Homo sapiens: one gene and its partners. The protein of the gene in region 3 interacts with the protein of the main gene of each other region in a pairwise test. Each region holds a gene or a part of one and is shown on either strand. Other genes may lie near its edges.

The links.
Region 1: the proteins of STMN3 (region 3) and MNS1 interact in binary tests that used the Homo sapiens proteins (3 or more experiments, as listed by UniProt).
Region 2: the proteins of STMN3 (region 3) and GLP1R interact in a protein complementation assay, tested with the Homo sapiens proteins (one study listed by BioGRID).
Region 4: the proteins of STMN3 (region 3) and PLEKHA7 interact in binary tests that used the Homo sapiens proteins (3 or more experiments, as listed by UniProt).

The regions. Positions count from the first base shown.
Region 1 is NC_000015.10:56,455,130-56,462,152, forward strand, and holds part of MNS1 (meiosis-specific nuclear structural protein 1), read right to left. Parts: intron 4,882-7,023; exon of another isoform or gene 4,499-4,881; intron 1,393-4,498; coding exon 1,265-1,392; intron 1-1,264. UniProt on the Homo sapiens protein: Microtubule inner protein (MIP) part of the dynein-decorated doublet microtubules (DMTs) in cilia axoneme, which is required for motile cilia beating.
Region 2 is NC_000006.12:39,072,774-39,079,796, forward strand, and holds part of GLP1R (glucagon-like peptide 1 receptor precursor), read left to right. Parts: intron 1-88; coding exon 89-242; intron 243-836; coding exon 837-996; intron 997-1,540; exon of another isoform or gene 1,541-1,608; intron 1,609-4,756; exon of another isoform or gene 4,757-5,140; intron 5,141-5,548; coding exon 5,549-5,609; exon of another isoform or gene 5,610-5,694; intron 5,695-6,123; exon of another isoform or gene 6,124-6,183; coding exon 6,184-6,253; intron 6,254-6,338; coding exon 6,339-6,427; intron 6,428-6,790; coding exon 6,791-6,929; intron 6,930-7,023.
Region 3 is NC_000020.11:63,650,402-63,657,878, forward strand, and holds the start of STMN3 (stathmin-3), read right to left. Parts: upstream 3,024-7,477; 5' UTR 2,945-3,023; coding exon 2,926-2,944; intron 2,366-2,925; exon of another isoform or gene 2,172-2,365; intron 1-2,171. UniProt on the Homo sapiens protein: Exhibits microtubule-destabilizing activity, which is antagonized by STAT3.
Region 4 is NC_000011.10:16,787,399-16,794,421, reverse strand, and holds part of PLEKHA7 (pleckstrin homology domain-containing family A member 7), read left to right. Parts: intron 1-3,219; coding exon of another isoform or gene 3,220-3,222; coding exon 3,223-3,411; intron 3,412-3,506; coding exon 3,507-3,624; intron 3,625-4,543; coding exon 4,544-4,647; intron 4,648-5,125; coding exon 5,126-5,326; coding exon of another isoform or gene 5,327-5,335; exon of another isoform or gene 5,336-6,940; intron 6,941-7,023. UniProt on the Homo sapiens protein: Required for zonula adherens biogenesis and maintenance. Acts via its interaction with CAMSAP3, which anchors microtubules at their minus-ends to zonula adherens, leading to the recruitment of KIFC3 kinesin to the junctional site.

The DNA of each region.
Region 1 (7,023 bases), on a different chromosome or scaffold from region 3:
TTCTCAGGAGGAACATTTATCTGAATAACCTAATCTGCAATTGCTAGAAGTGAAAATCTCTTCTATTTAATTCTTGTTTTCAGGGAATTAGAGATAAGAAATAGTTCATCGTCAGGTGAAAAAAAAAAAAAAAAAAAAAAAACCATGAGTAACAGCTAATGATGGTTGGAGAATTAGGGCCCAAAAAGATAGTTTGAGACTAGAACAATAAGCAGATTTTAACAGTAATTCTAAATTTCTAAGGATCGGTAATCTCTTAGAGAATCTGATTAGAGTTGTGGAGCCAGAAAAATACACATGGATACATTTGCCAAACATATTAATATAATTTAACAAGGTTCAAAATCCATGAAGCTCATCCATGTTTCCTGTAATATTCTACAGACGTCCTGCTCAATTAAGATAAAATGTAACAACTATCGAAGTAAATTTCCAATATATTCAATTACATAAGTATATGATTAGCATTTACTTGGCCCTGAGTTTTGATTAACACTGTGACAAGGCTGTTCCTAAAAAGTAATTCGATCTTAGGCAGGATCAAGAAACATTCTAGAATAGTGTCCTGTCATCTGGAGTATCTGGCAGTCTTTCTTGGAGTATTATACGGAAGTATGGGGGCAATTAAGGAATACTAATAATTTAAACTGTAATCAGAGAAGAAACCAGGATGATGAATAAACTTAAAGCCAGGTTATGTAAGAAACAACTGAAGGAACAAGGGATAGCTAACTTACAGAAGAAAACATTTAGTGCGTTCATATATGTGAAAGGACATCTAAAGAAGACAGATGCATGAAGTCACAGAGAAATTAATTTTAAAACAATGGGGGGGAAGATAATTTAACATTAAGACTAAAGTTCCTACTGCAGTTACTAGAGGTACTGAAACACAGGCTCCACAGTCATTCCAGAAATACTGTAGGAAATTTATGTAGAGGTATAAAATTAAACTAGTTATTACCTAAGGTTTCTCTTAAGATTAGGAATTCATTTTTTATAAGAGGTCATTTTAAAATTTATGTGTAAAGGAAAGAGCAGGGGGACTGATATTTATTTTTCACTGTAAATATTCAGACTTCCATGAATACAACTTCTTTTCTCAAATAAATATTTATAGAACTTAAAGCAATAAGTATTTCCAGGTAAAATATTAACTAAGTGAAATGACATAAACAAAGAAATTTCACTTTCAGGTGCTAAGGATTACATAAGAGTTTAAAGATAAAGACTAAATAAATGAAATTTAGAGAAACCAAGATACCTGTTTTCTCTTACTTGTTGCCTCATCTTTTCGTCCTTTAGACTTTCATGTTTCAGTTTTGCCAATTCCATAGCCAGTTTTTCTTCTTGTTTGAGCTGGAGTTCTTTCAATCTCTTGTTTTCTTCTGCCTGAACGAAAAATTTAACTTCGTTGTTTGTCCTCTAGAATCAGATTTTTTTCATCAAGGTTGAATTTGTTTTATAACAGAAAACTAAATGCCTTAAGGCCAACAATTGATGATGTTTTATTTTAAAATACAAAATGTTGTTTCAATAAATACTTTTTCAAAATATTTTATCATGGAAAATTTCAAGTATTGCCAATAGTAAGAAGAATATTTAAATACACTCTCAGGTACCCATCACACATGTTTTCAAAAATTGTCGACATTCTGCTAATCTTTTTTCTCTACCTTCCATTTCACTCTTTTTTCCCTTATTCTTTTTCTGCTAGGGTGTTTTAAAACAATCCTAGACATCATGTCACTTACCATGTAAATAATTCAGTATGAATATCTACCTGATCAGAATTTTTAAAAATATAACAATCATGTCATCAACACGTCTAATTAACAATAATTCCTTAATGTCTAATACCATGTTCATATTCAAGCTTTCCCAATTGTCTCAACATACTTTTCTAGTTGGTTTGCTTAAATCAAAATCCAAACAAGATCCACATATTGCATCTAATTATTATTTTTCTTAAGTCTCTTATATATTCTGTAACAATCACCTCTACACACATTTTTCCCCCAAGCCACTGACTTGTTATAGAAATTAGGACATACATCCCGTAGAATGTTCCACATTTTGCATTTGACTGATTGCTTCCCCAGGATATATCACTGAACTTTTTTTCTCTTTTATATTTCCTGTAAAAATGGCAGAAAGATCTAGAGGCTTGATTAAATTCAGTATCTAATAAAAACACATGAAAAGATATTCAACATCATTAGCCATCAGGAAATGCAAATTAGAATTGCAAGGAGATATTACTACGTACCTATTGGAATGGCTAAAACAAAAAACAGTGCCAACACCAGATGCTGGCAAGAAACTATCACTCATATATTGCTGTGTGGGAATGTAAAATGGTACAGGCATTCTGAAAATCAGTTTTATAGTTTGATATAAAACTAACATGCAGCTGAGCGCTGTGGCTTACACGTGTAATCCCAGCACTTTGGGAGGCTAAGGTGGGAGGATCCTTAAGGCCAGGAGTTTGAGACCAGCCTGGGCAACATAGAGAGGTGCTGTCCTTACAGAAAATTAGCCAGGTGTGGTGGCACAAATCTGTAGTTCTAGCTGTATCAGGAGGTTGAGGTAGGAGGACCGCCGGAGACCAGGAGTTCAAGGCTGCAGTAAGTCATGATCATGCCACTGCACTCCAGCTGGGCAACAGAGCAAGACCCTGTCTCTTAAAAAAAAAAAAGCCTCCATGCAATTATCACACAACTCAACAATTTTACCTCTTAAGCATTTATCCCAGGGAAATGAAAACTTTTTATTTAAAAACCTGTATACAAATGTTTACAGCAGATTTATTCATAATAGCCAATACCAAAAATACTCCAGACATCCTTCATCATGTGAGTGGTCAAATAAACTGTGGTACATCCATACTATGGGATACTACTCAGCAATAAAAAGAAAAAGAATGCAAGCAAAACTTGGATGAATCTCCATGAATTATGCTAAGTGAAAAAAGCTAATTCCAAAAGATTACATACAGTTTGATGCCATTTATGTAACATTCTTGGTACATGTTATTTTTTAATAATTGAGATATAATTCATATAGCATAAAATTCACCTTTTACAATTCACAATTCAGTGATGTTGTATATTCACAATGTTGTGTATCTATCACCACTATCTAGTTCCAGAGCCTTAAAAAAAATAGACTTTGAAGTTTTGGGTTCACAACAAAATTGAGCAGAAAGTACACAGAGTTCCCATATATTCCCTGTCCCTACACATGCTCAGCTTCCCCTTCTATCAGCCTCCTCCATTAGACTGGTACATTTGTTACACTCAGTAAACCTGTATTTACATTACTTAAACCTATGCATCATTATCACGCAAAGTCCATAGTTTACATTAAGGTTCATTCTTGGTGGTACACATTCTATGGGTTTTGGCAATGCATAATCATATGTATCTACCGTACACAATCATTTCACTACCCTAAAAATCCTCTGTGATCTGTCTATTCAACCCTTCCTCCCTAAAATCCTAAAAACAACTTACATTTTTACTGTTTCCATAGTTTTGCCTTTCCCAGAATGTCACATAGTCGGAATTATACAGAATGGAGCCTTTTTGGACTGGCTTCTTTCACTTAGTAATATGCATTTAAAGTTCCTCCACATCTTTTCATGGCTTCATAGCTCATTTCATTTTGGCACTGAATAATATTCCATTGTCTGGATGTATCACAGTTTATCCATTATCTACTGAAGGACATCTTGGTTGCTTCTAAATTTTGACATTTATAAATAATGCTGCTATATATTATAAACATTTGTGCTATGGCAGCTATAAAGCTGCCATGTTATATTTTTATAAATGCTATAGATATATATAGGTGATTGTATGTACACACTATATATAGCACATCTGTGTGTACATTTGTGTGTGGCATAAAATGTCAACACTCCAGAATGTTTACATCACCCCAAAAGAAACCTGTAACCTATTAGCAGTCACTTACTATTCCTCTCACCTTTTCCCCCAACCCCTGGCACCTACTTATCTATTTTTTGTCTCCATGGATTTGCATATTCTGGATATTTCATATAAATGAATTCACACAATATGTGGCCTTTTGTATCTGGTTTATTTCACTTAGCAAAATGTTTTCAAGGTTCATCCGTGTTGTAGCATGTATCAGTAATTCATTCCTTTTTATGGCTGTGTAATATTCCATTGTATAGATGTAACACATTTTGTTTATCCATTTATCAGCTGACTGGCATCTGGGTTTCTACTTTCTGGGTGTCATGAATAATGCTGTTATAGACACTCGTGTATGAGTTTTTATGTAGATATATGCCTTCAATTATCTCTTGGGAATATATTTAGTACCCAGCTACACCACACCTAGATTTCTGACTTGCAGAAACTGAGATAATAAATGGGTGTTGTTTTAAGCAGCTAAGTTTGTGGTAATTCGTTACTTAGCAATTGAAAACTACTACAGCAACTAACGTGTACTCTTCAAAATTGTCAAGGTCATGAAAGACAGCAAAAAGTGAAGAATTCTTACAAACTAGAGGAGACAAAGATTGGAGAAGAAACAATGACTGGCTGGGCACGGTGGCTCATGCCTGTAATCCACTTTGGGAGCACTTTGGGAGGCCGAAGAGGACAGATCATCTTAGGTTGGGAGTTGGAGACGAGCCTGACCAACGTGGAGAAACCCCATCCCTACTAAAAATACAGAATTAGCTGGGTGTGGTGGTGCATGCCTATAATCCCAGCTACTTGGAAGGCCTCGGCAGGAGAATCACTTGAACCCGGGAGGCAGAGGTTGTGGTGAGCCAAAATTGCGCCATTGCACTCCAGCCTGGGCAACAAGAGCGAAATTCTGTCTCAAAAAAAAAAAAAAAAAAAATACATATATATATATATATATATATGTGACTATAGTTTATTCAAATGCAAAGCTTGAGGACAGCCACTCAGGAAACACAAACTCCAAAATAATGGGTCATTGTTCCAACGTGGGGAAGTTAAGGTTTCACTTATATAGGCAGAGACAGAGAAGCTTAACAGGGTTGCAACATTTTCCATATAAGGTCAGTATACATATTATAGCAATTTAATTAGTTGCATTCCAAGGAACATTCCATGAGAAAGGGTAATGATCTTGAGGGGTCTTATCTCTGGTGTCTTTCCTAATCATTTACAGAACAAGAATAAGGAAGATTTAATCTGTAATTGGAAAAGCAGAAGTTGTAGCAGCATGCTATGTGACTCAGGACACATAGCCACATTCCTCTCAAGGCTAAAAACTAAGGATACATGACAACTAAATGCAATCTATGGTCCTCAAGTAGCAAAAACACATTAGTGGACAAACTGATGAAATCTGAATAAATCTCACAGTTAACAGTATTCCATGAAAGCTAAATTCTCCATTTTGATAACTTTTCCATGATTTTCATCTGTGTAAGATGTTAAGAAGTAGTCAGGTGAAGGGTATATGTGAATTCTCTACACTGTTTTTGCAACTCTCCTATAAATCTAAACTTATCTCAAAATAATAAGTTAAAAATATGCATATTTCCAAGATTTGTTCACTGAAAAAACCTGGAAGCAATGATAACCCAAGAATTATGAGTAAACCTAGCACCCAAGTTTTCTTGAAATATTATTTCCACTAAATGATAACAGCGCTTCCTGGCACAATGGCTGATTCCAGGTGTAGGACAAAAAATATAAGAGAGAAATTTTGTATTTGTCAGGGTTCTCCAGAGTAAGTGATTATGAAGGCAGGCAAGTTCTAAGATCTGCAAGGTGAGCTGGCAAGCTGAGGAACTAATGGTTTTGTTCTAGTTTGAGTCCTAAAGCCTGAGAACCAGCAGGCTCAAGACCCAGAAAGAGCCAATGTTTTAGTTTGAGTTCAATGACTAGAAAAAAAGGAAATGTCCCAGCTGAAAGGCAATCAGGCATGAAGAATTCTGTCTTATTCAAAAGAAGGTCAGTCTTTTTGTTCTATTCAGGCCTTCAACTGATCGGATGAGGCCCACCTATATTAGGGAGGGCAATGTGCTTTATACTCAGTCTATGGATTTAAATGCTAATCTCATCCAAAACAACCTCACAGAAACACCGAGAATGATGTTTTATCAAATACCTAGAAACCCCAAGGCCCAGTCAAGTTGACACATAAAATTATCACAAGCCTAGAACAGTTTGTTTTGACAAAAAGCAAGGAAGGTATCAAAGATTAAGGAAATATTGTCAAAAGGACACAGAGGGCCAGGTGCAGTGGCTGACACATGTAATCCCAGCACTTTGGGAGGCCGAGGCAGGCAGATCACTTGAAGTCAGGAGTTCAAGACCAGCCTGGCCAACATCGTGAAACCCCATCTCTACTAAAAATACAAAAATTAGCCTAGCATGGTGGTGCAGGCCTGTAATCTCAGCTACTTGGGAGGCTGAGGGAGAAGAATCTCTTGAACCCAGAAGGCGGAGGTTGCAGTGAGCCGAGATGGTGCGGCTGCACTCCAGCCTGGGAGACAGATGAAGACTCTGTCTCAAAAAAAAAAAAAAAAAAAAAACGACACAGAGGCAATATAAAAGGGCATCCATTGGCCAAGGATGAGATAATTTGAGCATCAAAAATAATAATAAATGCAATTAAGTACATAAATATCTATGAGTCCATAAAGGTATTTTTAAAAAGAGACAAAGTCAAAAACTAAATAAAACAAAAATTTAAAAACAACCACAACATAGGTAGACACCAATGGAAGAAAATAGGACACCAATTCCTTACTCTGAAAATTAACTGTCTCCTTTTTCAGTAAGAATAAATAACCCTAGTCAATAACAAAGTGTTTTTTTGTTGTTGTTTTTTTTTTTTTTTTTTTTTTTTTTTTTTTTTTTGTGGGGTGGGGGCAGGGGAACAGGGTATCTGTCATTCAGGCTGGAGTGCGGTGGCAAGATCATAGCTCACTGCAGCCTTGAACTCCTGGGCTCAAGAGATCCTTCCATCTTGGCCTCCCAAAGTGCTAGAATTATATGGGTG
Region 2 (7,023 bases), on a different chromosome or scaffold from region 3:
CTAATGTGTGTGTTAGCTTGAGAGCCTGGGGTTGTAGAGCAGAACTGTTGGCTGCCTTGCCAGGGAAAGGCCCTGCTTTCTCCCTCAGACACCTGCACTGCACCAGGAACTACATCCACCTGAACCTGTTTGCATCCTTCATCCTGCGAGCATTGTCCGTCTTCATCAAGGACGCAGCCCTGAAGTGGATGTATAGCACAGCCGCCCAGCAGCACCAGTGGGATGGGCTCCTCTCCTACCAGGTGTGTGGTGCATCCAGGACCGCCTCAGGAGGGATGGGCGGTTGGAGGAGGCCTGCCTCTGCCACCCTAGACAGGCCTGGGACAGGAGAAGACAAGAGCCGAACAGTCCTGGCCCTTCGGGAGCCCCCAGTCTGATGGGAGAGGCAGTTCGCCTTGGGACCCTCCAGTCTGCTGAGAGAGGCAGTCTACCTTAGGGAGCTCCCAATCTAAGGGAGGAGACACTGCCCTAGGGAATTCTCAGTCTGACACAAAAGAGTAGTCTTTGGAGACACACTTGAGTTTGAATGTCAGCTCTGTCACTTACTATCTGTACACTTTTAGGCAAGTCACTTACTTCTCTGAGGCTGAGAAATAGGTGAGAAGTCACTTACTTCTCACCTGCAGGGGGATACATTACTTTCTTCCAATCAGGATAGTGAGGATTCAATGAGCTAAAGCAGATAAAGTCCTTAGCACTAGCCCTAGCCAGAGATGTGAGCTCTCTCCTCCTGCATTAACCATGGCAGGATAGTGGCTGGAGCAGGACGGGGAGTGGTATCAAGAGAGGCAGAGGGCAGAGCTGTTGTCCCCATGACACCCTTCCTCTACCCCCAGGACTCTCTGAGCTGCCGCCTGGTGTTTCTGCTCATGCAGTACTGTGTGGCGGCCAATTACTACTGGCTCTTGGTGGAGGGCGTGTACCTGTACACACTGCTGGCCTTCTCGGTCTTATCTGAGCAATGGATCTTCAGGCTCTACGTGAGCATAGGCTGGGGTAAGAACCGCCATCACCCACCCTGGACCTGTGGCACGGGGGTGGGAGACCTTGACCCCTCTTCTAACATGGTACTTGGAACGCACTGCTGAGCAAGGGGCAAGGCCCACTGGGTAACCCTCTTCCTGGGCACAGGACCTTCTGCCCCGGTGCTGTTAAGATGCCGTAGGGGGTTATGGTCCTCCCCTCCTCTGCATAACTCTCCTCCCTTAATGGAAGCCTCCACCGCATGTGGCCAAACACCACCCTCTACCACTATCATGCACACCACTGGAGGTCATGGCACTGTTCTCTTAAGACCACATGGGGACATAAGTTCACACCCAGTCCCGGGCAGCCCGAGGGCCTGAGGGAAATGGTGAGTCCTGGGCCTCAAGGTGGGGAGGGGATCAAGAGGGTAGGGGGCTGGCTGGGGGGAGCCTGCTGGTGCTCTGTCACATGACGATGAAGAGGAGGGCTCAGAGGAGAGCCAAGTACAGTGGGGCAGGGGGGCCAGAGGCCAGCCAAGGAAAGGGTGGACGGCGGATGTGCCTGGAGCCCAGCTGGAAATGTTCTAGCCAAAAAAGTTTGCCAAGAACCATTGTGTCTTTTTTTTTGCTGGAACATTTCTGGTTGTGCTTCTGCCTCTCACCACGTGGGATTGTAATGAGGGGCAGCATTGGGGTTGGGAAGGGGGCTGGGATCCCCTTCACCCCTGGGAAAACATGCAACAGGCCTTTCTGGAGGGACCCACGGTACCCAGAGAATAGGCCCTGCCCTCTGTCCTCCCTAATCTGCCATTGAATCCATGAGTTTTCCTGTTCCACACCATCCCCCGCCCTGCTTGCCACTCCTTCATTCACTCCTCCTTCCTTCATGCGCCCACCTCACGCTGCTCTGACCACGGCTGCCCCTGCCACGGACCTCCGGGGACTTTCCAGCTCAGTCACATCCAGACTCCTCTTCCCTGACAATGGTCCTGTCCCTGAGCCTTTGCAAGGCTGTTCTCCATGCAGGAATGTTCAGGGAGCATCCTTCCCACACCAGGGTGTCCGCTGCCTCTTCAGGAAGCTGCCTCAGGCCACCAGTCCTCGTGGTTCTGTGCTCTCTGCCCTCTCAAGCTCTCCATCCCCTGTCCTTGCACTTCATTTATTTTTACTGGTGTTCCTCAGCCATTTTTCTCTATACAGCTCCCCCCACCCCCCAGGAGAAGAGTAGCCTGAGAGATTTTAATGTGACCAGTGTCTTGAGGACACCAAGGCCCAGAGCTGGCAGGGCCTTACAGGCAGAGCAGGCCCTGGAACCCAGGCCTCCTGACTCCCAGGCTCTGGGCCTGCGGCCATCATGCCCTGTTCTCTTGCCTGGGCTGCATCCCTTCAGTCCCCTGCAGCACCCCTGAGCAGGCTCAGGCCTCTGCACAGGTGGGCAGGTAGGCCTGGCTCCTGCTCACAGATCCCTGCTCCTCACCTGCCTCCTCCACTCCCAGAACCCAGTCCCTTCCTTGGCCTTTTCTCCCCGAGGCTTCTTCCTCCTGCTAGAGCAGGAGGAGGGAGGCCATCGAGGGCAGCTCAGGGAAGGCTGTCTTCAGGGTGGGGGACGGTGTCTGTCCATTCTAGGAAATAGCATCAGCGCTGTTAGTGCCTGTCACCATGGCGACCCGAGGGCAGGAACAATCAAGGGACGTGTGTGATGTGTGCAGAGGAGCGGGGGTGGCTGGAGTTTGGTGGGGACACACTGCCCTAGAGGTCTCTGAGTGGGAGATGGGGGAGGGAGTGCCAAGTCCTTTTCCTACCACCTCACACCCTAGCTCAGGGCTCGGGGTCTGTGGGAGCACAAGGGCAAGACCCGGAGGACACCCTGCTCTAATCAGAACACCTTTTTCTTGAGGATTGGGGTGGGGGAGACGGAGAGAGATTCACAGGTTGCTAGGAGCTCAGACGTGATGCCAGGAGGCCTTGCCCAAGCTGGGATACTTGGGAAACAACTTTCAGCTTCATGTGCAAGTGGAAGAATTAAAATTAGGACTCTGACACAGTTGGAGAGGTCCCCCAAAGGGCATGGCAGCTTCTGCTGCAGTCCCCAGGCAGTTGGGGGCCTGTAGAAACCCACATGGAGGCTGTGCAAGAGGGAGGCAAATGATGGTTGAGGGAATCATTACTTCCTGGAGCCAGTTGTGTGTGTCTTAATTTGAGCTTTTTTCTCCAACCTGTCTTGCTCGTTTTCTAAATGGGAGAAAGATGAAGCCAGCAGGGAGTGCGTAATGTTTGCATGCAGCAGGGCTTTCGTGACTGTGTTTTTTGAAAAGGCCTTGTTAAGGAAATGCTGACGATGAGTGAAACTTGCCAGGTCTGGCTGATAACATGGGTGAGTGCCCTGATCCTGGAAGGAGGTCTCAGAGAGAAGGGACAGCAGGGGGCGAGGGATACCCAGAAGGAAGCTTCTGCATGTGTACGTGGTTCAGGAAATCGGCATGCTCTTGCCCAGACAATGTTCCTTCCCTTATTGGTGTGTTGACTCACCCATCATTCGTTCCATTCTCACTGGGCATCTTCTATGTGGCAGGGCCTGTACCATGTGCTGGGGCCTTTGGAGACCATCCCATTCCTTGTCCAGTCTCATAAAGGCCTGTTACTAAAGCACCGTAGATGCTGAGAGGTCCGATTTGTGTAGAAATCAATGGGCCAGGAGAGAGAGAGCTGATGAAGAATGCTGGTCCGCTGGGGGCTCCTTTGCCTCCTCCATCTCTCCCTGCATCATCAGGCACAGTAGATCTGGGCACACAACCTGCTTAGTAGCTGCTGTTGAGTGGACACTGATGTGCTAAAGACATAGACAATGGTGACAGGAAAGGCTATGAAGTGGTTCTGTCCTGGAAATGTGCTCCAGGCAGAGATTCCCAAAGTCATACGTGCACACTCATGGTCCACCCACCACACCCTCACACACACATGTCTACATACCTTAATATGCACATGCTTACCTATCTCAGACACATCTCCAACACTGAGGGAGGGGCCAACGGAGACGAGCATGGAGACAGCCAGTGCAGAAGGCCATTGAGGGCGGTGGGAGTGGGTATGGGATTGCAGCCCTGAATTCGAGCCCCACCTGTGCCCTTCTGAGTCCCTGATCCATCTCCTCATATGTCATGTGAGGAAGGAAAATCCAATTTTAAATCAACCAACACAGACCCTGAGCTCTCAGGGTGATCTGGGCATTGAGGCTCTGAAGGTGAGTGAGGCCCAGGCTCTACCCTCAAGGAACTGGGAACCAGTTGTATTAATTCTCTATTGCTGCAGAACGATTAACCCTGAAACTTAGCTACTTAAAACAACGAACCATTGTTATCTCACAGTTCCTGTGGCCTGCAATCTCGGTTCAACTTAGCTGGGTACCTTGTGGCTCAGGATCTCACAGAGAAAACTCTTTAGGCAAGAGCATGTGGATTTCCTGAATCACATACACATATAGAAACTTCCTTCTTGGGCATCCCCCACCCCCTGCTGTCCCTTCTCTCTGAGACCTCCTTCTAGGATCAGGGCACTCTCAGAGAAGCAGCCAGCTGTCACCAGGGTTGCTGTCATCTCAAGGCTTAACTGGGGATGGAGAATCTACTTCCAAGCTCATTCAAGAGGCAGTTGGCAGGAAGCCGCAGTTGCTGGCCAAAGGCTGGAGGCCTCCATTTCTTGCTGCAGAGACCTCCATCTAGGCCTTCTGAGTTCTCTCAGCACATGGCAACTGGTTTCCCCCAGAGCAAGTGATCAGAGAAAGAGAAAGAGAATGCAAAACAAGCCACAGTGTCTTTTATAACAATCAGAAGTGACATGCCATCACTTCTGCCAGAGGTTCCTGGGTCACATGAAACAATGCTGATACAACGTGGACTAACTACCCAAGGGTATGAGCACAGGAGGTGGGGATCCCTAGGGGCCATCTTAGAGGCTGTCTACTACACAAGTCAAGTCTCAGCCGAGTGGAAAGTAGTATTGTTGTAGCTGTTGTTATTGTAGGCCACTGCGGACAGTTAGTTGGTCAGCTGGCATCAAGGACTGGGCTCCTGTCTCCATTCCAGGATTCTGCCGAGCCCTCTTGAAGGTGCACAGTGGTAGGGAAGAGATGACTGAAAGGACATCCAGTGCCTTTAGGAGTTGACTGGCAACGTGGGCTGAAGCAAGAGAGAAAATGGGCATCAGAGGGTTCGCCTGCTCCTTGCCTCATCCGTCATGCTGTCCCCACCGCATGGCCCAGTCCCGCTGCTGTTTGTGTGTCTGTGGCCTGGTAACTTAGCCGGGACTCTGAGGGCAAGTCCTGACAGTGTGCCTGGCACACAGGAGGTGGGGGACTGATGACTGATGAGGACCTCTCTGTAAGGAAGAGTCTGGGGGTCCGCATGGGGCTCCTGCTGCCTCTGTTCTCCCAGGTGCCCAGAAAAAAACTAGAAAACATAGTTGGAGGCCAGGCAAGGAGAGGGGCTGGAAGTGTGAGGGGCTTGGGGCAGGGAGAGGCCTCGGCATGTAGACTGTGGCTCTGGCCTGCCAGCCCCTCTCCCCTTCTGTCTTTCCCTCTCTCTTAGGTGTTCCCCTGCTGTTTGTTGTCCCCTGGGGCATTGTCAAGTACCTCTATGAGGACGAGGGGTGAGTGTCCTGCTCCAAGGGGGCGGGTGTGCCCAGGTCCCCATCCTCAAGGTCCATGGGATTCCTTGGTACCTGGGGCACCCATCTGTTGAGAGGATAAAGGGGGGTACCAGGAGCTTAGAAGGTGAATTTAGTTCTCTAATCTCCCCTCCCTGCCCCTGCCCCTGCCCCTGCCCCTGTCCCAGGATTGTTTGATGACTAACGGAACTGGGTCTGTGGGGTACATGGTGCCCTCCTGCAGGTTTTTCTGTAATATCTGCAAGTGAAATGTTTGTGTCATTTTGTATATGATGCTGGGTACACACATGACTGTGTTGGTAGGTCCTTGAAAGCTTGTTTGGGGGCTGTGTGCATCTCTGTGTATGACTGTGTATTTGGACTATGCGTGTGTGTTGTGTGGCTGTGCACTGGCAGGGCTCTGTGGGTCCATGGGACTGGTTTTTGGGTGGCTCCTGGGAGCTGTGTGTGTGGCACTCAACATGGCCATGTGCATTGGCGGCCTCTGTGCCTGCACCTGAGCTGGGGGTCCTGTGAGTCCTGCTGGATGCATGTGTGCATCTCTCTCCCTCCCCAGCTGCTGGACCAGGAACTCCAACATGAACTACTGGCTCATTATCCGGCTGCCCATTCTCTTTGCCATTGGGGTGAGTGATGGTGTCAGGGATGGGAGTGGCAGCTATGATAGGGCTGGGCTGGTGCCCCCTGCCAATCCCCGGCCCCACCCCGCAGGTGAACTTCCTCATCTTTGTTCGGGTCATCTGCATCGTGGTATCCAAACTGAAGGCCAATCTCATGTGCAAGACAGACATCAAATGCAGGTGATGTAACTGAGCTGGCTTTACTGAGGACCCTCAGCAAGTGCCCCTTTCCTTCTAGCAGAGAGAGAGAGAGAGATCCTGGGATGCTTAGCTTAGAGCCCTACACTACCCTCTCCTTCCACCCAGGCCTGGCCTTGGACCCCAAACCCTTGCTTTTGCCCTGTCTCTGGGCAGCCCCTGGACTTGTTGGGGTCTTGACCTCTATTCTTTCCCTCCAGGCAGCCTGTCCCAGGGTATTTGGGGTGGGAGAACATCCATGACCCAGATATCAGGACTTGGTAGGAAGTGGGGAGGGTAGAGAAAGGGAAGAAGAGTCCATGGGAGAGGTCCAGAATGACTCGAGATCTCTGCCCTGCCCCTCAGACTTGCCAAGTCCACGCTGACACTCATCCCCCTGCTGGGGACTCATGAGGTCATCTTTGCCTTTGTGATGGACGAGCACGCCCGGGGGACCCTGCGCTTCATCAAGCTGTTTACAGAGCTCTCCTTCACCTCCTTCCAGGTGACTTCATGCTTGGGGACACTTGCTTGTAAAGTCCTAGAGTGGGGGTGGGACAGACACCAGCCTGCATCATGCAGATGGAAAAGGTGGGAAG
Region 3 (7,477 bases):
GTAGTGCCCGCTCCCAGGGTCACACCTCACGCCCACCCCTCCCGCCGTCCAGGTGGATGGTGCCCACTCCCAGGGTCACACCTCACGCCCACCCCTCCCGCCGTCCAGGTGGATGGTGCCCACTCCCAGGGTCACACCTCACGCCCACCCCTCCCGTCGCCCAGGTGGATGGTGCCCACTCCCAGGGTCACACCTCACGCCCGCCCCTCCCACCCACCCGGGTGGATGGTGCCCGCTCCCAGGGTCACACCTGACGCCCACCCGGGTGGATGGTGCCCGCTCCCAGGGTCACACCTCACGCCCACCCCTCCCGCCCGCCCGGGTGGATGGTGCCCGCTCCCAGGGTCACACCTCACGCCCACCCCTCCCGCCGTCCAGGTGGATGGTGCCCACTCCCAGGGTCACACCTCACGCCCACCCCTCCCGCCGCCCAGGTGGATGGTGCCCACTCCCAGGGTCACACCTCACACCCACCCCTCCCGCCCACCCGGGTGGATGCCCTTATCAGCTCTCCTTCTCCTTCTCTTTCGTCTTCTTCGTCTTCCTCCTCTTCTTTCTTCTTTTTTTTTTTTTTTAGAAAGAGTTTCTACTCTTGCTGCCCAGGCTGGAGTGCAATGGCACAATCTCAGCTCACTGCAACCTCCCTCTCCCCGGGTCAAGCAATTATCCTGCCTCAGTCTCCCAGATTGCTGGGATCACAGGAGTGTGTCACCACACCTGGCTAATTTTGTACTTTTAGCAGAGAGGGGGGATTTCACCATGTTGGCCAGGCTAGTCTCGAACTCTTGACCTCAGTTTATCCACCGGCCTCAGCCTCTCAAAGTGCTGGGATTACAGGCATGAGCCACCCTATCTGCCTCACTTCTACAGAGGAGGAATGAAGGCTCAGAGAGGGCAAGCATTCCACCCAGCATCACACAGAGTGCCGGGTGAGAGCCCAGTCATGAGCCTGGGCCTGACTGCAGGCTCCTGTTGGGAGCTCGCGGAGGTGGGGGATCTGTCCAGAACTGAGAGGCCAGGGGACCACAGTGGCCTCTGACCCCTGGAGGGCCCTGGAGGCTGCTGCCGGCTCCCCCCGGGGGCAGATGGAGGTCACTGTCACCCAGGCTGCTTCTCATGGTGCCAGGAGCACAGCATGGCAGGAGCCACCAGCCGATTTGCCTTTCCCTGGGCAGGAAACTCAGAAATGTGGCTACCACAGTCAGGCTGCTTGACGTGCGGTGAGCACTCATCTCTTAGCAGGCAAGCGGCCAAGCACCTTTCCTGAAATATTGAGGCCTCAGAACAAGCCCCAGGAGAGGTGCCAGCACCGTCATCTCTACCCAGATAAGGAGACCCAGGTCCTGAGAGGTTAGGCAGCTCGGACAACACCACACAGCTGGAGGAGGTCAGACTCTGGGTTGCAGAAGGAGAATGTGAGCAGAGGCCACAAAAGAGCGAGGAGCCAGTGCCCAGATGCCGAGATGCCCTCGCCCTCCCAGCTCAGCCCCAGGAACCGAGCCCATGGGGAGGGACCGTCAGGGAAAGGCTGTCAGGAAGGGCAGGAGGCGGCCCTGGAGAGGACGGCGCTGCCCTCAGGGGCAGGAGGGGAGTCCCCTCCGCTGAGAGCCCCCCCACCCCCAGTATCCCCGGGGGTGTCCAGGAGGAGGCGGAGGGAGGAAGCGCAGATGGACAGGACTCCCAGATAGGGTGGGGAGGTGTGGCCGGTGACACACACGGTCCCCTCCTGGCAGGTGCTGAAGTCACCTGGAGCCTCCAAGCCCGTGGGGCCTGAGGGGCGGGGTCAGGTCGGGCACGCGTGGGTGGGCGGAGTTCTGCGCCCCGGGCCAAGGCGCCCGAGTTGAACCAGTCAGCTCGGGAGAGGGACCGCGGCGACCTGTCCCGGGGGCGTAAGAAAAGGTGGGAGGGAGTGCGGCTCGTGAACGGGGGCGGCGATGGGAAGGAGGTGCGGCCCTTCGTCCTGTCCTCCCAAACGTCGAGTGAAAAACGAAGCGGGTTCTGCGGCCTCGCGGCGGAGCAGAGCGTTTCGGGAAGGGCGGGCCCAGCGTCCTCGCGCCCGAGGTCGCCCGGCAGCTCCCCTGCGTCCAGAATCCGCCCCCCGCCCGGGCCTGCGCCCGCCCCTCCGCCTGAGCTCCGCGCGGGACGGGCCGGGAGGCCGGGGTGGGCGCTACCTTCGAAGGCGGTGGGTCCGCCCCGCGGGAGGTGGAGGGGCGGGAGGGGCGGAGCCCTCTGGTCTCCGGAGGGTTTGGGGATCGCAGTCGCCCCTCCCCCATCCAGACCCCGCGGCGCAAAGGGCAGTGGCTTTTCTGGCCAGAGCAGGTGGCGCGGGCGTCGCAAAGGGTGGTCCCCGAGGCCGCAGCGGTGTGGGGGGAGGGCGCGGTCCCCCTCACTCCGGGCTCCGCCGTGTCTGGCCCGCCCCCCTCCTTCAGCGCCCCCTCCAGCCCCTGTGCTGCACTGGCGCGGGGAGCGCCGGGTTCCCGGCTGGGGCTTTGGCAGAGGGTCCCACCCTCTCCCCGCCTCCCCACGAAGGCTCTGGCGGACCCAGATCTCGGGTCGCCGGACGCCCCAGGGACCCCGCCCGCACATCGCGAGCGCGCCCACCCGGTCGCGAGCCCACGCCCGGGTCTGGGAGCCACCCTGCGGCAGTCGCGCCCTGCGTGGCACGCTGCTCCCCCAGGGGCGAGGCGCCCCCGCCCGACGTCCCGGTCCCGAGCGCTCCCCGGCGCGGCGCCTCGCAGCCCAGCGCCCCACCAGCCCCGCCGGCGCCGCAGACCCCAGCCTCGGGCGGGTCGGGCCCAGGCTTGCAACGCGCAGGGTAGGAGAAGGGAAATTGGCGTCCGCTGCCGGCCGCTGCCCCAGGCGAGGCCAGACGAGGCCTCTGCTCAGATCCCGCCGCCCCACAAAGCCCGTGGCCCCGGAGCCTACCGGAAATGGTGCTGGCCATGGTGCTGGCGGCGGTTGGGCCTGCGGAGGCTGGAGAGGCGCAAGTGGCGGCCGGAGCTGCAGACGGCTGGTGCTGCAGTGCCGGGGAGGGGAGGGGAGAGGAGTGGAGGGAGCGAGGGCGGGCGGGAGGCGGGCGCGGCGGGAGAGAGAGAGGGAGGGAGACAGAGGGAGAGAGAGAGAGGGTTGGGGGAAGGAGCGGGGGGAGGAGGGAGGGAGGGTTGGGGGAAGGAGAGAGAGAGAGAGAGAGACTGCGGGGGCGGGGGAAGGAGGGAGGGAGGAAGGGAGGGAGGAAGAGAGAGAGGAGCAAGCGCCTGGCTGCGGAAGGGGCCGCGGCTCTCAGGGGGAGAGGGCGGAGGAGGGGGGCTACCCGAACTGCAACAAGACCCCCCACCCTCCAACCGCTCACAGCGGGACAGCTGCTTCTCCAACTTGGCTTTGTGAGGCCTGAGAGTGGGGTGGGGGTGGAGATGAGCCCCCATTCCCCAGGGCAGGCGGGGCAGGGGCAATGCCGGAGGAGCAGGTCCCACCCATGGGGTGGGGCCGCAGAGCTCTTCGCCGCCAAGGCCGCTGTAGGCTGGGCTGGCGCCAACAGGGTCCAGGTCTGTGCCTGCCATCGGAGAGGATGCCACAGCCACAGGGGTGGGCGCTGGCCTGGAGGCCTCCAAGGGGCATCTCCTGTGAGCCCAGGGGATGGGCAGGATCTGAGCGGAGAAGAGTGAAAGTGGAGGAGTGAGGCCAGAACAAAGGCTTTGCCGTGAAAGAGGTGGTTTCCCGCCTGGGCTCAGACCTTCACTCACTGTGTGGCCCAGGCCAAGGGCAAGCGTCTGACCTCGCTGGGCCTTTGTTTCTCAGGGGTAAGATGAAACAATGATGCCCCCAGACGATGGAGAGGAGGGGTGCCAGGGTTGTGCGCACTTAGTGAGTGGGGGGCAACCTATCCTGCCTCCCCCTCTCCTCATAACTCCCAAAGGGAAAGCCTGGTAGGCAAACGGAGCGTCTTTGCCATTGCAGGGATGAAGCCACCGAGGCAGGGAGAAAAGTGCTTTGCCCTACAAGCAACTAAGTCATAGGGCCAGGAGCAAAACCCTGAAAACCTCAGGAGACTTGCAGAGCCATGAGGCTGGCTCAGCAACACAAAAGCCAGGGGCAAGCCTCAGCTCTAGCAGTGCGGTGGGAGCACCCAAGGCCAGTCACATCCTAGGGTGGCCTGGAGAGTCCTGACCCCTGACGTGCAAGCCGGCATCATCCCCGGGACTGTGAGTCTGGTGGGGGTGATGCCCAGGAATGTGACATTGTGTGGCCCAGAGGTACCCTTAAGACTGGAGGATCACCAGGCGGGCCCTGACCTCATCACAGGAGCCCTTTAAAAGCAGTTTCCTTTGCCTGGTTGAAGAAATCGGAGGGATCAAACCAAAGAAGGTTTTCTGTTGTTGAGATGAGGGGGCCACGTGGCAAGGATCTGAGAACTGCTCCCAGCCAACAGCCAGCAAGACAACAAGACCTTAACTGCAAGGAAGTGAGTTCTGCCAACAAGAAGAGAATGGGCTTGGAGGCAGGTTTGACCCCAGGGCCTCCACACAAGAACTGAGCCCAACTGCCCACTTGGTTTCAGCCTTGGGTTACTAAGAATTAGGAGGTAATGAATGAGAGTTGTTTTAAGCTGTTGGTTTTGTGGTGATTTGCTATGAAGCCATATCAAACTAATATACACACAGAGGTGTTGGCCCCTGGGCCATTCCTAGGAAGCCAGCTCTGCGAAGGAGGAAGAAGGGCAGAGAGGCACACAGAGCTGCCCACCACAGCAGCTGTGTCCTCCCTGTTGGCCACCACAGTAGCAGTTGGGGATGGTCAGCATCCTTCAGGCAGACTCCAGCCCCGGGTGCTGGAGCTCAGGTGCTAGGGATCAAGAGAAGTAGCCCTCTCTGGGACCTCCAGAGTCTTCTCATGTGGGTGGGGTAGGACCCACCCAGTCAGGCTCAGAGCACCGCAATGCCTCACACTCATTGTGACTCTGGCCAGGCCCTCTCTGAGCCTCTGTGTCCTCATCTGGAGCACAGGGACCAGGTGTGTGGAAGCCCGTGGCATAGTGCCAGGAACACAGTAGATGTGCACAGTGTGCACTAGCAGGAACACACAACAGGGGTACTGACTGTCAGCACCTAGGCAGGCACACGCAATGGGGTACTGACTGTCAGCCATACTGACTGTCAGCGTGCTAGCAGGCATACACAACAGCTGTACTGACAGCACACTAGCAGGCACATGCCATAGGTGTACTGACTCTCAGTGCACTGGCAGGCACACGCAATAGGAGTAATGACAGCATGCTGGCAGGCACACAATAGCTGTACTGACTGTTTGCCCCAATATAGTGCCAGGTCTTGGAGCAGATTTTGACTTCTCACCAAGATCAAATGCAGAAAGTGCACGAGCATTTCAAAGATGTTTTTCACATGCACATTAGTGCTAGTTAAAAAAATGTTTTGACTGGGTGCAGTGGCTCACAACTGTAATCCCAACACTTTGGGGGGCCGAGGTGGGCAGATCACCTGAGGTCAGGAGTTTGAGACCAGCCTGGCCAACATGGTGAAACCCCATCTACCCTAAAAATACAAAAATTAGCCAGGTGTGGTGGCAGGTGCCTGTAATCTCAGCTACTTTGGAGGCTGAAGCAGGAGAATCACTTGAATCCAGGAGGCAGAGGTTGCAGTGAGCCGAGATCCCACCACTGCACTCCAGCCTGGGCAACAATATCAAGACTCCACCTCAAAAAAAAAAATGTTTTTCATAAAGTGTGACTTTTATCAGACCTCTGCATTCTTGAAATTAACTCTGGCTTGGCTGGGCGTGGTGGCCCACACCTGTAATCTTAACACTTTGGGAGGCTGAGGTGGGCAGATCACGAGGTCAGGAGTTCAAGACCAGCCTGACCAACATGATGAAACCCCATCTCTACTAAAAATACAAAAATTAGCCGGGCGTGGTGGCATGCACCTGTAATCCCAGCTACTCAGGAGGCTGAGGCAGGAGAATCGCTTGAACCCAGGAGGTGGAGGTTGCAGGGAGCCGAGATCGCACCACTCTATTCCAGCCTGGGCGACAGAGCAAGACTCTGTCTCAAAAAAAAAAAAGAAAGAAAGAAATTAACTCTGGCTCCTAGAAGGAGCCCTATATCTCAGCAGGACACTCAGTCATTCAACAGACATCTGTCAAGCACCTGCTGTATGCTGGAGCTGTGGGTACGTCAGCAATTAGAGGAAGAGGGCAGGGGTACAGGAGTTCCTGACCACCCCAGGCCAGCACGCTCCTATAGCAGCTGGCAAGGAGCAGATGACTCAGACTTCAGCTCAGTCCACAGGACAGCCTTTTCTGGCCACTGCTCTCAGGAGATGAGATGTGTGGCTGCAAAAGGTAAACTCCTGGCTCCTGAGCAGGCTCTGGGCAATCTGCTCAACGCTCTGTGCCTCACTTTCTCACCCAGAAAGTGTGGACAATGAGAGGACTTATCTGGCTGGGCGCGGTGGCTCACGCCTGTAATCCCAGCACTTTGGGAGGCCGAGGCGGGTGGATCACCTGAGGTCAGGAGTTCAAGACCTGCCTGGCCAACACGGTCAAACTCCATCTCTACTAAAAATATAAAAAATTAGCCGGGCTTAGTGGTGCACACCTGTAATCCCAGCTACTTGAGAGGCTGAGGCAGGAGAATCACTTGAACCCAGGAGGTGGAGGTTGCAGTGAGCCAAGATTGTGCCACTGCACTCCAGCCTGGGCAAAAAGCCAAAACTCTGTCTCAAAGAAAAAAGAATCATGGCAGAAGGTGAAGTCTATGTTAGTCCCAGTTCCCAGGTCGTACATGGCGGCAGGAGAAAGAGAGAGAGAAGGGGAAACTGCCACTTTTAAACCATCGGGTCTCCTGAGCACTCACTGTCAGAACAGCCTGGAGGAAACTGACCGCATGATCCAACCACCTCCCTCCAGGTCCCTCCCTCCACACGTGGGGATTACAATTCGAGGTGAGACTTGGGTGGAGACACAGAGCCGAACCATATCAGCATGTATGGGGGGCACTGAAACTTGTGCTTGGTGCCCATTCATTCAACGAGTGTGTGTGGCTGGTCTCCTCATCTTCAACTCCCTGCCGAGTCTCAGATAGGCAGCCTGCAGTTCCTTCACCACAACAGGCACATGGGGCTGGGTGCCAGTGAGTGCTGGGGCTTCTCCGAGCACTATCTCACACCCAGGAGCGTGGGCACGCATGGCATTCGCATGTGCCGTCAGTGGACATTAAACACAGCCATGAAGAAGCCACGAAGAAGTGCTGCCTGCCGGCCGTGCGCGGTCACGCAGCGCCAACTCCCTCCTGGGGCCTTCTGGGGCCTTCTGGGGCATGGGAGCTGGGGCCGCCTGAGACAAACATCCGTGACGCTGGGCTGACCCCACAGAACGGTGCGGGCCTCGCTCTTGGAGTCAGCCCTGCTGCCAGCCAGTGCCGGGTGCTGGGGACTCAGGGAGGCCCGCCGGGACCACTGCGGGA
Region 4 (7,023 bases), on a different chromosome or scaffold from region 3:
GGAGAGAAACTCCTGGGAAAACTTGGGGAAATGGACCCAGCCAGCGTCCTAAAGGAGTCCTTAGTCACAAGCAGTTAAAAAGTAGTATTTCCCTGCTATTGTGCCTTAGACTGTCAGAACTGGAAGAGCCCTGGAAGATGATCTAACCCAACTCTCCCATTTTGCAGTTGGGAAAACTGAGGCCCACCAAGAAGAAGTGAGCGTGCTGAGTAGGGTGGAGTTTGTGATCTGCAGAGAGGTGTGTGGCTGTGGACGAAGCTGTCCCCATGCAAACCTTTGTGCAAATCCGCAGGGGGCTCTCCTGCAGTTACACAGCCTGTGGGCAGTGAGTTCAGTCCAGTGGAAAAGTGTCCTTCCCTTCACCCGCCGCTGAGCACTGGGCTGGGTTGTGAGGATGCTTTGATCTTTAAAATAACCTCGCAGAGTATACACAGCAAGAGCAGTATCCCCATTCCACAGAGAAGAAAACTAAGAGCCTAAATTGTTGACATTTGCTCAATGTCTCCATGCTAACTAGTGAATCCAATCACATCTCCTGGCCCTTCTCTTTTATTCTGTGCCATCTGCCATCTAATTGGGCTTTCAGTCCCAGATCCGGTCTGTGGCCTCTGTGGCTGACTGGGCCAGCACCTTGGTTTGCCTGGCATAGAAAGGGGCCAAGCTCTTGGCAGAGTCTGGGAATGCAGGAGACTTTAAAGAAATAGGAGATGTGGTCAGGTCCCAAGAGAGCTCACGCCTCCAGGGCCAGGCCAGCCTTGGCTGGAGAACACAATGAGGCTGGTCCCAGTGCAGGGAAGCCATAGAAGAGTGGACCTCGGAATGGGGCCCTCCAGATTTTTGCCAACAAAGGCTTGGAGGAGACTTACCTGGGCATTGTGTGTGCCTGGACCTCTGATGAGGTCAGTGCACAGTGCTGGGTAAAACACATGAGTTCTGCTGCCCTGGTCTTCACCATCTACCTGCTTCCAGCCATAGTCCAGGGCCCAGAGCTGGACCCAGGATATGGCCCAGCACCCAGCCAGAGAGTCACTGTGGATTTCAGCATCTTGAGATCTCCTTCCCAATCCCAGATCCAAGAGGTGGACTGGAGCTCTAGCCCTAAAACAGGAGAGGGAAAATTCCAAAACAAACAGCAGGAATGTCTGGGGCAGATGGCTGCCAACATAGGGCAGAATGCTGCCAGCTGGGACAGGGCGTAGGGGAAAAAGGCACTGGCATAGGAGCTGGGACACCCAGATTCCGGGACTGATTCTCTCACTGTGTCCTCAGGCAAGTCCGTCCCTTCCCTGAGCCTCCTCATTTTCCCTTTTGTAGATGGTCACAGAGGCTCCTCCTCAGCTTGGTCATCTGTGGCTCTCAGGCAGGGCTTTCTCAGCTTGGGTGAGCATCAGGATCACCAGGAGAGGTCCTCTCTCCTAGGAATATATGTGTGTTTGCCAGTTTTACCATTTGTTTTATTACTTACTTGTTTTTAACACTTATAAGATGGGCGTGGTGCTGCTTGCCTGTCGTCCCAGCTACTGGGAAGGCTAAGGCAGGAGGATCATTTGAGCCCAGGAGTTTGAGGCTGCAGTGACCTGTGATTACACAACTGCACTCCAGCCTGGGCAATACAGCAAGACCCTGTCTCAAAACAAAATAAAACCCATTTATATTTGTGAAACAATAATATCCATCCTGAAAATGACATAAAACAGGATTATATAATTTAACAAATAACAATAAAGAGACCACCTGTTTTATACCAACAGCTAGACTAAGAAATAGAACACTGCCAGCAACCAGAAGCCTGTGGGTTCTTTCCCAGGCCAAGCTGCTTCCTGTCTGCCAGAAGTAACCACAATCTTGACTTTTTGGATAATAATCCCCTTGCCTTTTTTTTTTTTTTTAATTTTAGTACCTGTGTTGACTCCTAAACACTGTGATTATGCTGGTATATAATTCTATATACTATTTTGTGTCTTGCATCTTTTCTTCAACATTATGTTTGTGAGATTTATATACATTGTTGCATGTGGCTATAGTTCTTTTATTTTTATTTGACTTATTTTCTTGAGTTTAATGTCTTTTTAAAAATAAATTAGATAATATTCTCAAAAGATACAAAAGCAAAAGATATAAAAAAGTACATAATAACATGTCTCCTTCCCACCCTCTGCCTCCAGACATTCCATTCAATCAAAGGCAATCAATGTTTTATGTTTATCTTTCTGGGGAGCTTTTTAGAAATTGGTGATTCGGATATCTTGTCAGGATTGGAAACTGTGGATCCTCAGAGAACCAGTGCGTATCTTAGGCAGATGGCTTAACTTTCACACATCAGTGAAGATTGTTGATAAACCTTTGCTTTGGAGTGCTCTTTCCTGAACTTTCCAAGAGCTTGGAGTGCCCTTTCCTGAACTCTGCAAAATTCTTAAAAACAAAACCAAATTAGACCGAGAAAGAGGGAATTTAGGAGGTGGAAGGCATGATGGTCGTTAGTCCTGCGAGTGGGTGTTCATGGCAACCAGGGGCCGGTCTGTTGATATGTAGAGGAACCACAGCCCTCACAGAACACTGTGGACAGGGAGTTTCAAGGAAAATGTTGCATTCATCACATTCTAGGGAATGAACTGCATGGTAGGCAGTGAGTCACTCATCCTGACCGCCTGTTCTGTCTGAGTCAGGAAGGAGGAAATATTTTGTAACCATGCACATTTCTGATAGAAAGGCCAGGAGGATGTAGACTCTGTCCTTGTTCAGGTCCCCACCTTGCTGAAGGCGCCAGAGCTCGTGTAGGGCCAATGAGCCGGCTCAGGCTGAGCACTGCTGAGTGGGTAGATGTTACTCTCCAGGTAGGTGGTGCTGTGATAAGCATGGAAGTCAGGGCAGGGTTAGCAGCCTGCCTGCGATGTGCACTCCAGATGAGCGGAGGGAGCAGTTCAGCACAGCACCGAGGGCATGGACCCAGGAGACCTGAGTCCTGGGTTTCAGGACACAGTTATACAGGTAACACTTGGAGGAATAGAAACTGTATACCTCTGAGGGGATAGAGGAGCAGAGCATGTCCCTTCTTCACTGCTCCGCCAGGGGAAGTGTGAGTGCTCCTTGGCTGAGGCAGTCATGTTCTGTGGCTCTGATGTGGCCTGTTCCTACCCTTTAAACCTCCACTGTGGCAGTACCTAGCAGTCCTCCCTCCAGCTCCGTCTCGCTGACCACTGGTCTGGTTCTCTTTCTCAGCAGGAAGATGAAGCACCTCCCAGGCCCCCACTCCCCGAACTCTACAGCCCAGAGGACCAGCCCCCGGCTGTGCCGCCTCTGCCAAGAGAGGCCACCATCATCCGGCACACATCTGTGCGGGGCCTCAAGCGGCAGTCAGACGAGAGGAAGCGAGACCGGGAGCTGGGGCAGTGTGTGAATGGGGATTCCAGGGTGAGCGGGGGACCCTGGGGCTGCCACTCTACATGTGGGGAGAGGTAAAGGGGTGTGACACTGGCAGGTCACATCACCTGGGACTCTGCCCACAGGTGGAGCTGCGGTCGTATGTCAGTGAGCCTGAGCTGGCGACCCTCAGCGGGGACATGGCCCAGCCCTCCCTAGGACTTGTGGGCCCTGAGAGCAGGTACCAGACGCTGCCAGGCAGAGGTAAGGCAGGGCCCTCCCTGGAGTTTCTCTGGGAATCCCACCACACTGCTTCCAGCCTTCAGCTGGTGCCTCGTACCCTTCTGCCTGCAGCTCTAGGCCTAGGAGTGAGCAGCAGCTGTCAGGGGGGTCTGGGATGCCAAGAGGGAGGACCTGGCCTGTCTTCCTCTGGCCCACATCCTGATTCTCTTCCTCTTTTGTTACATCTGTCCCCAGGAACAATGATAATAGCAGTTACTAGAAAGCCTGGCACTGTTTAAGCACTTTATATAGACATGATATTCACAACAATCCTATGAGGAAAGTACTGTCATCCCCATTTTAGAGACACAGAAACTAAGGCCCAGAGAAATTAAATAACTTGCCAATTAGCTGGTCATTGGTGGAACCGGAAGACAATCCCAGTGCTCTGGCTCCAGAGTCACTGCACCCTGTAGGCCGGAGTGCTGGGTGGCTGCCACCACCTTGGCCATCTCAGACCTTCCAGAGTGCCACTCTAAGACTCAGTGAGCCCTTTCCTTAAATGCTTTCTTGCCAGTTGAGTGTCCTTCTCACTGTCCTCCTCACCCCAAGTTGGGTTGTGCAGGGTGCCTAAGAATGGATCAGGGGGTGAAAGGCATTCCTGCCCCGCCAGCCTTTCTACCTGCCAGGCAGCCCAGTCATCTGCATGTAAGGGAAGCCTGGGGTGGTCCACAGATCTGCAGGGACACTGCCCCCCATCAGGGACAAAGGTCACCCCTGGGCTGGCCCCCATCCTCTATTGGGGACCTTGCTCCTCCATGCCCTGGGGAGGAAGAAGAGAAATAAGGGTGGGTCATTGACTGGGTGCTCTTGGTACTCCTGCAAGAATGTGTGATGAGGGAGAAGCAGGGACCCATCCACCCCAGCACAAACATGCTTGCACTTCTCTTTCCTCACTAAGGGCTCTCAGGGTCCACGTCAAGGCTCCAGCAGTCGTCCACCATTGCTCCCTACGTCACACTCCGGAGGGGTCTCAATGCCGAAAGCAGCAAGGCGACCTTCCCTGTGAGTGGCCTTGAGCTGTCGAGGACCTCCCTGCTCCTTCACATGGGGAGGGAGGGTCTCCCAGGGGGACAGTAACTGGCCATCCCTTCAGCCCTGGGGATGGCCTCTGGGGTGGCCTCAGCCCCTCCTGAGCTCCCTGTCACCCACTGTCCACCAAGGAGGGCATCCTGCCTTTCTCTCTGGCCTGTCAGGGTGGCAGGAGGGAGCTCAAGAAGCCTGCACCCTGGGTTCTGGCCTCACTGGACAGGCCTGAGCCTAAGTGTCTGCATCTGCAGAATGGGTGCTACTCAGAAAGCTCCTGAGGGTTGGGGGCATCGTGTTGCTTAGAGGAAATAGTTCTCTAAGGCCAAGAGGAGCCCAACTAGAGTGTGCATGTGTGTGAGAGAGAGACAACGGGAATGCAGCCAGCAGGGTGGCTGTCCTCTGCGTGCCCAGCCCAGCTGTTCTGTGTCTCTCTTGCCTGCCTCCTCTTCCTCAGAGACCTAAGAGTGCCTTGGAGCGCCTGTACTCAGGGGATCACCAGCGAGGCAAGATGAGTGCAGAGGAGCAGCTGGAGCGCATGAAGCGACACCAGAAGGCCCTGGTCCGAGAGCGCAAGAGGACACTGGGCCAAGGGGAGAGGACGGGCCTGCCCTCATCTCGCTACCTCAGCCGGCCGCTCCCTGGAGATCTTGGCTCAGTATGTTAGGAGGGGCCAGGCAGCGGGGCAGGGACAGGGAGCCGAGTGCCCCTCAGAGTCCCCCAAACACAAGCACATCACACCTCCCAGTGAGAGAGCTGTCCATTGACCTACATGGTTCAGAGAACACCCCACGGGGCTGTTTGTCCACGACCCAGGCTGGACGAATGCCTGGTCAGAGGGTGACCTGAACCAGAGCTGGAGTGAGGATCAAACAGGCCCAGGAGCCTGAGGAAATACCCAGTCAGTCCTCCCAGCCGCGATGGAGAGGGGCCTTTGCAGGCGTTCGGAATCTCGGCTGAATTCAGGACCTGGGAATACAGGGTTCAGAGAGGAGAGGAGGAAGATGGTGACATGATTTGGTTAGAAGCACAAGCAAACTGATCAGCCTCCCAGACCTGCCAGCAGATGCTGTGTGAGGGTGATGGAGCACGGGGTCACACCCCTGCCCCAAGGGCCACTGGTCTCCCTGGGCTTGCAGTGCAGAGGCCTCAGGGTGTCTGGGATTGCTGGGGAGGCCTGTGCTGCCCCCTGGTGGCGCTTCCTGGCGCTGCGCCCTGTCCACAGTCACCTTAGGTCCCTTTGGAAACATTCCATTTGACTTTTCCCTGTTGTTTGAAATCCCATGTTTCCCTAAACCTCTAGCCTGATTGTTCTTTCCCTAATTCATTGCACAAGCTCCTTTGCTTTTAGTGTTACCGCTCATTGCCTCTCTAATCCTGCCTGATTGTGTTTACAGAAGCTTCTGATTTGCATTGAACATGCTCTAACTGGCCTGTGCTACTTATTACCGGGCTTGTAATAGCGGTTCTTGTCTCCATAGCCTGTTGAGTGTTCCCAGATGTGACTCACCTTTCTGCTGCCCTCTTCATGCAGGCCTACTGACTCATAATTCACTTGTCCCAAAAGCCACCCCACAAGCCTGAGCCAACCTGCTGCCTGACGCCACAGTCATTGGCAGAGGTCTGGGCATTATTAATTTATAAAAATCCATGCTTTACACCTGGACAGTAGACAGGGACTTCAGAGATTGCACGTTTGAATACATTCTCCCAAGACTGAGGTTGTTCGGTTTTAATTCCTGTAGTCCAATCACACAATTTCTTATGGAAAACCTTTTGTGTTTCTGGTATTTAATAACTTGAAGGGATAGCAAAATATACTGTGTATTCAGAGGGCCTCTCTGCAGCTGCTAGCTCAGACACCAAAGGGGTAAGGCCCAGGACATTCATATCTTTAAAAGCTGCAAACCTGGTAACCTTTAAACTTTTAAAACAAATGTCATATGGGGTAACACTGACCTTTTATAATTTGATGTCTCAAATGTAGAGATTATCTAAAAATCGTAACTTGAATACCTTGTAATTTTTCTCTTAAAAAAGAAGACTTGTGTAAGTCTCTGCATCAACGCCAATAAACATGTTGCTTAATAATAATGGATTGGCGTGGTTCTTCCCCAGGATACCTTATAGAGTCTAGTGAACTTTTCCTGTTTGTGGAAACAATCAGGCTGGGTTTAAATGAGGACTTGTCTCTATTTGGAGCATTTGTGAGCGTGTAAGGAAATGAGTGTTTTCTTTGTGAATCATTAAATTGATTTTTTCATCTTTGGAACTTCAGTTGCCTAATCCTTTCCAACAATAGTTGGAAACCATCACCTAAGAGTGATTACATTGATTTGGAGTCATTGAGAGCTT